Regions from separate parts of the Homo sapiens genome. Here region 2 is linked to region 1. Evidence: fine-mapped expression QTL. A gene starts in region 1. The other region holds a variant in brackets. All regions are shown on one strand. Distances are from middle to middle.

Region 1 (5,369 bases):
TTTTTTCCAAGAGAAAATGGGCGACTATAAAAGACCTTGCAATAAGAGAAATAAAAATACCATGTCTTCACAGCAGTGTACATAAATAAACCATAAAAATGTGCAGATAATAATATATTTAGCTGCCCAAACATGGGCATTTAATTTCTAGAAATGATATATAACAATGTAACAATTAGATACTCAGCCATGAATGTGTATGGCACAGTCTTCATCATTAGCAAACTTTGTGTATAAAATATTATTTATTATTTATTATAATACTGCTTTCAGAGGCAATGATCATACCTTACAGCTTTTAACACAAATATGATGCAAAAGGATTAAAAGTATATCATAAACAAACAATAAATTCTTTCTAAATACACTTAAATTCATATTTTACATGAAAAATATAAACTTCCTACATTTGTGACTACTGACTTTTAAAAAGACCTAGAAAACTATTGTTACGGGCAATGTTAAATGACATAATGCTTATGTAATGGAAAGTGTGGATTTTCCTCTAAATAAACTATAATCCCTTAACTTCATTACTAGGGAAAATATTGTTAAAGAGAAGGAAAGCAAGGGAATTCTGCTAGGTTGCATAAATATTGACATAATCTTCACTCTTTCTTCCCCAAACTGGTAATAGACATAGTTTATTCCACCCAACAAAATGCTCTTATAAGACCAAAACTACCCTTATTAACAACTTCTCTGCAGTCACGATGAAAAGAAACACTACTTGTCTGAAAAATACCGACAGCGCTGCCCTTTTCAGATTAGGGTGTGCCTACGAATCTTTTGGGAAGTCTTCCATTAAGGATTCCTGGGTTTGCTGAAACTGAAGTCTACTAGGATCAGAGAAATTAACACAGGTCTAATATGGTGCAAGGAACGAGTGAGAGACACCTGAGGTTATAAATAGCAAAGCATGCTGCGGGGTGGGGAAGACCATTCTGAAGTGCAATGTTCAAGACGCTGGCTTAATATATGACTAAGTGTCAGAAGTCAGGTTTTCTGAGAATTACTTTCCAGATAAACAACTTTATAGCACTGCACTTAATCTTACTTACTAGAGACATCTCATTTATCACTGAATTACAAGTAACTTTAATCCTATTGATATTGCCATAAAGCCCGTTGAAAATCCATCCTGGCACTTTTAAAGGGTTTGGGGCCCTGTTACATGGGGATCCTCTTGCAAAGGTCTCAGCCAGAAATTACACCCCGAGGGTGTCTGTATCCCCTGGCCTCTTTGTCAACAATCAAGGAGAAGAGGAGGGGCAAAAATGATCTCTGCATCTGCCAGCACTTTCTTCGGCCCCTTTCCTATAGGGTCGGGTTCTCCCACTTCAGTCAAACTAACTTTGTGTGTCTCTTTCCTCCTCCCACACTGGGTAACCAGCTGCTTTTCACTTCATCGACAAAACTGGACACGGATCAATTTCAACTGACCTTTGCCGAAAGGTGGCGCTGTTGAGGTAAAAACCAACTCGCTCCAACAATAGTTTCCACTCTTCGATCCTTTTGCAGGCTTTTCAGAATTTTTTTTTTTTTTTAATGCACCCTCCTAGCGTCTCCCCCTTCTCATAAAGTAAAATAAATACGATTAAAAACACCAAATGCATTTCATTAATTGAAGGAATCAACAGTCCCAACTTCTAAGCAGACGGGCTGGTCTTCCAAAGGCTGGGTCGGTTTCAGGAGCTTTCTCTCCAAATAAATCTCTGCTTCTTCGACTTGCCTATCGCTTTAAAATCTTAGAAACAGAGTTAGTTGTTGGTTTCCTTCTTTTTTCTTTTTCTTTTTTATTTCTTTTTTGCATAAACTTTTAGAGAATCAATCTAGAAATTTGAACTACTTATTAGCATTTGCAACTGGGGGTGGGGGGAGCAGCCTCCCCCACCCCACCCCCCACTCTGCGTTTCCGGACTAGTTCCAGAAACCGCGGTTTAAAATTTAACCCTTCGAGGGTAGCTGGTGAGGGCTGGGGTATTGTTTTTCCCCCTTGCTCCCTGCCACGATCAAGTCCGAAATAATTAAAGGAAACGTAAAAGTGCAAAGGGCGCGCCTGACCCTGATAAACAGAGGTCAGATTTCGTAAGGGGACGGGTGAGTGTGAGTGTGTGTGTGTTTGTGTGTGTGTGTGTAAGAGAGAGAGAGAGCGAGCGCGCAATATGAGTCTCAAAGGCCAAACTCCGGCCAGTCAGGAGCCGGAAGGCTGAGCCCGGCTGACCTGACTTTGAGCTTCCCCGGAGTTATCTCGCATAGGCGCTCGCTCTGTCCAAGGGCACGCGACGCCAGCGGGCAGCCGGTCTCCGTGAAGAATGGCCTCTAAACAACTTATTTTACCTCGTTGTAAAGAGAGGGATAAAATGGGCTTTCCCTCTCCACGGATGCCCAGCCTTCTGGGCAGGCGCATGGCCGGGCGGCGCCCAGCCCGCAGCCCCGATCCGGACACCCCACTGCATCCCTCCCTTCCCGGTCCCTTCCCCGCACGGGCGCCCGAGAGACGGACAAAGAGTTGGGGCCAAGTTTGAGCGCCGGGCACGGCCAGGCTCAGGGAAGGAAGGTCCCCGGCAGACACCTGGGTACCAGAGTTGGTGCGAGGAGGAAAAGCTGGGAGGCGAATTCACAATCCTGGGGGTGGAGGGCAGGCAGGGGAGGGGAATCAGGCCAATCCCAGCCGAGTGAGCCCCCAGCGAGCTGGGGCTCCGGATGGGAGGCCTGTCTCGCGCTCCAAAGAAAAGCAAACCGCCCTCCCAGGTCCGCCCGGATTGCCGAAGCCCCTCTGGAAAAACTCCTTCCCCTCTTACACCAAACTTTGCGCCGGGCCTCGTTCCCTCCCGGGTAGGCAGCGGCGCAGGAAGGGTTAAGCCAGCCCGTCCCAGCTGACAGTCAGCTGATTGGGCCCTGATTGACAGCTCCGAAAAGTTTCCTTGTTTCTATACTATTATGCTAATCGCGGCCGCTCTCGCCGCCTCCCATTGGCCCGGAGTGCCAGTCAATTTCTCATTTGGACCTGACGTCACGAGTGCTATAAAACTCAGCAATTGCTTTAAACTCTTCTTGCTGGATCAGAGGCTTTAAAATCTTTTTTCATCTTCTAGCTGTAGCTCGGGCTGCTTGTCGGCTTGGCCTCCCCCTCCCCCCTTTGCTCTCTGCCTCGTCTTTCCCCAGGACTTCGCTATTTTGCTTTTTTAAAAAAAGGCAAGAAAGAACTAAACTCCCCCCTCCCTCTCCTCCAGTCGGGCTGCACCTCTGCCTTGCACTTTGCACAGAGGTAGAGAGCGCGCGAGGGAGAGAGAGGAAAGAAAAAAAATAATAAAGAGAGCCAAGCAGAAGAGGAGGCGAGAAGCATGAAGTGTTAACTCCCCCGTGCCAAGGCCCGCGCCGCCCGGACAGACGCCCGCCGCGCCTCCAGCCCCGAGCGGACGCCGCGCGCGCCCTGCCTGCAGCCCGGGCCGGCGAGGCGAGCCCTTCCTTATGCAAAGCGCGCAGCGGAGCGGCGAGCGGGGGACGCCGCGCACCGGGCCGGGCTCCTCCAGCTTCGCCGCCGCAGCCACCACCGCCGCCACCGCAGCTCGCGGAGGATCTTCCCGAGCCTGAAGCCGCCGGCTCGGCGCGCAAGGAGGCGAGCGAGCAAGGAGGGGCCGGGGCGAGCGAGGGAGCACATTGGCGTGAGCAGGGGGGAGGGAGGGCGGGCGCGGGGGGCGCGGGCAGGGCGGGGGGGTGTGTGTGTGAGCGCGCTCGGAGGTTTCGGGCCAGCCACCGCCGCGCAAGCTAGAAGCGCCCCAGCCCGGCAAGCTGGCTCACCCGCTGGCCACCCAGCACAGCCCGCTGGCCCCTCTCCTGCAGCCCATCTGGCGGAGCGGCGGCGGCGGCGGCGGCGGCGGCAGGAGAATGGCATCAGAACTGGCAATGAGCAACTCCGACCTGCCCACCAGTCCCCTGGCCATGGAATATGTTAATGACTTCGATCTGATGAAGTTTGAAGTGAAAAAGGAACCGGTGGAGACCGACCGCATCATCAGCCAGTGCGGCCGTCTCATCGCCGGGGGCTCGCTGTCCTCCACCCCCATGAGCACGCCGTGCAGCTCGGTGCCCCCTTCCCCCAGCTTCTCGGCGCCCAGCCCGGGCTCGGGCAGCGAGCAGAAGGCGCACCTGGAAGACTACTACTGGATGACCGGCTACCCGCAGCAGCTGAACCCCGAGGCGCTGGGCTTCAGCCCCGAGGACGCGGTCGAGGCGCTCATCAGCAACAGCCACCAGCTCCAGGGCGGCTTCGATGGCTACGCGCGCGGGGCGCAGCAGCTGGCCGCGGCGGCCGGGGCCGGTGCCGGCGCCTCCTTGGGCGGCAGCGGCGAGGAGATGGGCCCCGCCGCCGCCGTGGTGTCCGCCGTGATCGCCGCGGCCGCCGCGCAGAGCGGCGCGGGCCCGCACTACCACCACCACCACCACCACGCCGCCGGCCACCACCACCACCCGACGGCCGGCGCGCCCGGCGCCGCGGGCAGCGCGGCCGCCTCGGCCGGTGGCGCTGGGGGCGCGGGCGGCGGTGGCCCGGCCAGCGCTGGGGGCGGCGGCGGCGGCGGCGGCGGCGGAGGCGGCGGGGGCGCGGCGGGGGCGGGGGGCGCCCTGCACCCGCACCACGCCGCCGGCGGCCTGCACTTCGACGACCGCTTCTCCGACGAGCAGCTGGTGACCATGTCTGTGCGCGAGCTGAACCGGCAGCTGCGCGGGGTCAGCAAGGAGGAGGTGATCCGGCTGAAGCAGAAGAGGCGGACCCTGAAAAACCGCGGCTATGCCCAGTCCTGCCGCTTCAAGAGGGTGCAGCAGAGACACGTCCTGGAGTCGGAGAAGAACCAGCTGCTGCAGCAAGTCGACCACCTCAAGCAGGAGATCTCCAGGCTGGTGCGCGAGAGGGACGCGTACAAGGAGAAATACGAGAAGTTGGTGAGCAGCGGCTTCCGAGAAAACGGCTCGAGCAGCGACAACCCGTCCTCTCCCGAGTTTTTCATGTGAGTCTGACACGCGATTCCAGCTAGCCACCCTGATAAGTGCTCCGCGGGGGTCCGGCTCGGGTGTGGGCTTGCTAGTTCTAGAGCCATGCTCGCCACCACCTCACCACCCCCACCCCCACCGAGTTTGGCCCCCTTGGCCCCCTACACACACACAAACCCGCACGCACACACCACACACACACACACACACACACACACACCCCACACCCTGCTCGAGTTTGTGGTGGTGGTGGCTGTTTTAAACTGGGGAGGGAATGGGTGTCTGGCTCATGGATTGCCAATCTGAAATTCTCCATAACTTGCTAGCTTGTTTTTTTTTTTTTTTTACACCCCCCCGCCCCACCCCCGGACTTGCAC
Region 2 (5,369 bases), 730 kb after region 1:
TAGGTGTTAATATAATTATAGTTAACATTTATTAAGTGCCAATGTGCTTCAGAGATTAAACCAAGCCTTTTATATGTGTTATTTCATTTGATGCTCCCCCAAGCCCTATAAAATAGTTTTGATTATCAATCATCCTCATTTAGCTGAAGAATAAACTGAGGCTTAGAGAGGTCAATTTGTTCCAAAGTTATGATAATTACTTTACTCAATGACAGGGGCAGGAATTGAACCCAGGGGCCTGCCTGCAAAGTCTGTACTTCCCAATGTCATGCTAGGCCATCATTCAGCATGGTATTTTTATTTATTGTAACTCAGACAAGCTCAGTCATCTGCCCAATGTCATGAGGCTAAGGAGTTGTGGCTCAGGATTTCCATCCATGGTCTGTCCTCCTGAATAGCATGCAGCACCACCTCGGAAGCAGGCATGGCTGCTCAAGAGGCAGGGCAGTTGTATTCCGAACCCCAGTGGATACTTACTGAGCCAGTACTAGTTATGCTAAAAACTACAGGGAATGCTTTGTCTTAGGGGATCTTCCTCTCTGGTGACGCAAAGAGAAGGGACCTGCTAGAGCCTATAAAAACAAAATCATCTGACCTGTAAAAGGCACAAGAGGGGATTTGCAATTGAACAGACCTGGTTTCCAATCCCCTCTCATCCAGGAGTATCTGTGGGCGCTGAAGTCATTTAGCTTTTTGGGCTGCTGGGCTTAGCTATAAAATGTATATAAAACTACCTATGTTGCTGTGTGGTAGAGTGAGTTGGACATTATACATCCAAGGATATTTCTAGATTCATTCCTCCAATAAATATTGTCTTCCACGTGCTAAGCCTTCCTCTAGGCCCTGAAGTACAATAGTGAGCAAAAGAGACAAAAATCTCAGTACTTACAAACTTACATTCTTCTAGAGAATAGGAGAATAAACACAAAACTCATGTATGTCTATGTCTCTATCTATGTCCACATCTATGTCTGTATCTATGTGATATAATAAGTGCCACAAGGAATACAAAGCAGGAAAAGGAAGAGAGGGTGCAAGGCTCAGAGAGGCAGGCTGCCATTTTATAGTGAGTGGTGAGAAACAGCTTCACTGAGAAAGTGTCAGTTGAGCAAAGCCTTTTGGAGAAGAACAGCTCATGGTGCTACGTGGAAGAATACTCCAGGCAGAAGGAGCAGCAAAGGCAAAGCGTCTGAGACAGGAACACACCTGGCATGTCTGAGGAACAGCTGAAGAAGAACAAGAGGCCAGTAGGTGGAAAAAGCTCACAGGGGGGAGGCAGGCGGGTCAGAGGGGGGGAGGCAGGCAGGGCATACAGAGGGTTTGGTGTCCTACTGTGACGATTTTGCCTTTTAATCAGCCTGAAATGGGATATAAAGTCTTAGATGGATGAAATAGGAATAACTTTTCTCGTTTCCTTCCTCGTCTGACTAAATTAACAGATGAAGGAATTGTCAAAATACAAAACCTTCTTCCTTACTGAACCCACTGACCTGGCAGGGCTTGTAAGGAAAAGAATTTGTTTCTAGAAGAGCTATTTAAATGTCCTGGACCTCTTCGAACCAGCAGAAATAGGAACCAGTTAACTTAACAGGCAAAGTAATAAGACTATACAGAGGAAACACATTTTCCTACTTTATGCCTTAATTTTAAGTAGAGTTACAAGATTTCCTGTAGGAATTCAGAGTGTTATCTTATTTTATGCCCCAAACTAGAAAGAGCGTTCCACTGGGTTTGCCAAGCTGTTAAGATGAAAATATCTGTTTGAGCACAGCATAATAGATGAGGTGTTTAAGGCATTTTCCTTTAGATTTTTGGTTAATCTTCTTTTAGTTAATTTTCTGAGATAAAATCCAGTTATAAATAACCTGAGGGTACCCTAACTGGGCTGTTCTGAGAATGGCAAATCTTTAATAGCCAGAACTTCTGCCTTTTAGAGATCTCTAGAGAAAGCAGTACTTTGAAAATTATCCAAAGCAAAATAAGTCGAAAGCATTAACAAATTAAAGACACTGGGAGAGAGAAGAAAGGGGCGAATGAGAAACTTCTTTGACATTCACAAGACAGCAGATCTTACCCTTGAAACTCCTTTAAAAAAAAAAAAAAAGAAGAGTCAAGCATTCACAATCTATTTGTTGATTAACAACAGAGAACTGGTGAGTTTCTGTCATAACAGAGTCTTGGAAAATTCATCCTTTTTCACAAAAGGAAAGGAGAGAAAATTCCAGACAAAACACCCAAAGTGCAGAAGAAAGGGCATGGCCATAAGCAGCCATCACTTAGACTAAAGTACAATGGGTACAATATTAAAATAAGAAGTTTTAGAACTGCTTTTAAAGATAGCTGGCGGAAGAATTAAAAAAAAAAAGAAAGGAAAAAAACCTTAAGTGTTTTCCGTTGTTAAAACGTAAAGCAAAATTTATAAAAGGATTATAAGGTAGCGTAGGTAAGAAAGTCATGTAAACTAGTTGAAATATCTAGAGTTCCTCAGCACAAAAAGAGCAGGTTGGCAGCTGTCCATCTGCAGTGTATATAGTACCATGGAGCCTGTTTATAAAAATAAGAGAGGGTGGGAGACCTAAAGTGGGTATAACTCAAAACAAAACAAATCTGTAGGACTAGATAAGGGAGGGTGATTATTCCCAGGTACTAATAGGCTAA[A/G]TGGTATCAGGAGAAAGAATTAGAACAAGTTTCTACTAAGCAATAAAAGTGTGGAAGAAACATTCTTTTAAAAAACGAATGAGATGCCCTAGAAACCTGTAAGTCAATAACCGTGTCACCAATTGTAGGATTATCCAGGACATGCAGAGCCTACACTGACAGGCCAGTTGAAAGGGTAGACACAGTTGTAATCGACTAGGAAATTGCCACTGTGGCTTAGAAAAACCAAGTCTTGTTTATGGGTTTGCCTCCATCTTTCTAAGCTTCTATAAAAGGTGGCTGGTGAAATGTACCGGGATTCTGACGATACTCACCTTGAGATAAGGGATATGAAGAGTCGGGAAGAGAGGCAAAGTGAATTCCATATAGCCAAGAACAGACAGAAGGAAAAACAGATTAAATAGCAATCAAAACACTGTCCTCCACTTAATGAAGTGGACTGTCAAACTGATTTGCTATTTTTTTGTTTTAATCATTCTAGCCAGGCAGATCAGACACTCGAGAATTAGAGAAATACTAATTTGGACTAGACACTGGAAATGTCTTATATACTGGGAGCATCATAAAGCTAGAGAAGGCTTACAAAGCAAGATGGCTGCCACTGAGATCAGCACACTGGGGTTTTTAACAGAAACCTATTACTTGATTTACTGGGAGTGGTAGAACCCTAAAGAAGCGGTGAACATCCAACACTGAAATTTGAGCTGGCTCTTCCTCAGAAAGGTTTCAGCGGCTTAATCTCATGCAATCTTGCAACATTCCTGAATTCAAACCCATGAAGTAGAGAGTCAGCCCGAGACCCTCTTCAGAATCCACCGAGTCTGCTGGGCAGGAAGAGCTAGCTTGTTGAGTTGTCCTGCTGCAAATGAAATAGTAACTTTCTCAGAAGCATAGGATATTGAAAGATTCCTTTAAGAGGCCAAGTCCTCAAAGGCATGTATGCAACGTGAAGTCATGGGGGCAGGCCTTCCTGGTTCCAATGCATGTTTTCACAGGGTTGTGTCTCTATGCTTGAAGGGGAGCTCTTGGGCCTATCTGAGGGATCATTTACCACTTGCTGTAGGAAAGTCCAGTGGAAATCACTTCTAGTGGTGAGTCTTGGCCAAATATACTCCTATGTAGAAGGCCTGTGTAGGAGGTTATGCTTGGAACAGTTGAGTAGATGTTCTGGCAACCTGTGATGGCCTTACTAAGTCATGACAGTCAGCCAAAAAAAAAAAAAAAAAAAAAAAGAAAAAAATCTTCTGGTCACAGACACAGTTGAAGGTGTTTCAATTTTTGTCCACTACCCATTGCCAACATGTCTTTAAGTCACTTGCCATCAGAATCTGTAGTGGAGACCATCCAGACATCTTTTGCCATGAATAACATCAAGTTCTTCCTGTATACCAGGCGCTGCAGTGAGCCCTGGCCAGGCACCACATCAGGCTCAGACAAGTCCATAATTTTTTGAAATCGACCCAGTTGGAGGTAGCAGAACCAGGACTGCATTCCAAGGGAGCGGGACTTGACAGCTTTAGCAACTGCGTCTGCTTTCCCTCCGCTCCTAGCCTCTCACTCACCCAAGATCATGTCTGTTCAGGATGCAGCTCTCTATTCAACTCCCCAACTCAGGGCCTCCTTTCCTGGCGGCTCAAATGGAAGCTTTTTTTTTTTTTTTTGAGACAGAGTCTCGCTCTGTCGCCCATGCTAGAGTGCAGCGGCGCCATCTCAGCTCACTGCAACCTTCACCTCCTGGGTTCAAGCGATTCTCCTGCCTCAGCCACTCGAGTAGCTGGGATTACAGACGTGTGCCACCATGCCCAGCTATTTTTTTTTTAAATAATTTTAGTAGAGACAGGGTTGGTCAGGCTGGTTTCAAACTCCTGACCTTGTGATCCGCCCACCCCGGCCTCCCAAAGTGCTGGGATTACAGGCATGAGCCACCGTGCTCAGCCAGAACCTTTCTTTAACTTGATTACTGTGGGTAGTTACACATTTTCAATGGCCACTAGAATGAAGTCTTCAGAGACACTAGGACCTGACCTGTGATTGCCCCTCGCTATACTCCCAGGGACTAAGCACATGGCCTGGCAAAAAAACATAGCCTTCCAAATATCTCGTTTTATTTTACTATTTTATTTACTTTTTGAGGCAGGGTCTCTCTGTTGCCCAGGCTGGAGTACAGTGGTACAATAACAGCTCTCTGCAGCCTTGAACTTCCGGCCTCAAGCAATCGTCCTCCTCAGTCTCCCAAGTAGCTGGGATGACAGGCATGCAACATCATGCCCAGCTGAGTTTTAAAAAATATTTTATAGAGATGAGGTGTCAGTATGTTCCCCAGGCTAGCCTCCAACTCCTAGCCCCAATTAATCCTCCCACCTCAGCCTCCAAAAGTGCTGGGATTACAAGGTATAAGCCACTGTGCCTGGCCCTCCAAGTATTTAAAATGAATGGATATCTCCCAAAGACTAAGCTGTAAATGGCTGAACAACTTACATTCTTACCACATCTGCTAGATGGTAAATATTTGTGCTGCTATTTAAAAGAAAAAAAAAATCAGCATAAGGAGATAGTCAACTTGAAGGGTGATGACCAGATCTCTGATAATAGGAGCTAGTCCCTTCTTAATTCCAATTAGGAGCTACACGTTGGTAATTAGTGACATTCAAACCTCTATCTAAAACAAATTTTTAAACTTTTTTTATCAAGCATAATTACATGCAGAAAAG

Which allele goes with the higher level. Alleles are on the strand shown, and positions count from the first base shown. SD is a standard deviation of normalised expression in the study named.
For the expression in skeletal muscle of the gene that starts at base 3,057 in region 1, allele G in region 2 goes with a higher level than allele A (large effect, 0.78 SD a copy in FUSION).

The links.
Region 2: its variant is fine-mapped to the expression of MAF in skeletal muscle (FUSION, PIP 0.91).

What each region holds. Positions count from the first base shown.
Region 1 is chr16:79,598,425-79,603,793 of GRCh38, reverse strand. It overlaps MAF (MAF bZIP transcription factor), which reads left to right and starts at 3,057. Exons shown (of 2, transcript NM_005360.5): 1 at 3,057-5,009. The coding sequence starts at 3,892. It overlaps LOC101928230 (a long non-coding RNA gene), which reads right to left and starts at 2,907. Exons shown (of 3, transcript NR_188556.1): 1 at 2,805-2,907; 2 at 1,444-1,747. RefSeq lists an enhancer at 2,848-3,142.
Region 2 is chr16:78,873,206-78,878,574 of GRCh38, reverse strand. The region is part of intron 8 of WWOX (WW domain containing oxidoreductase); the gene reads right to left. Among named protein-coding and RNA genes, the nearest start is that of WWOX-AS2, 380 kb to the right of the region's middle. The variant A/G (reference allele first, on the strand shown) is at 2,659.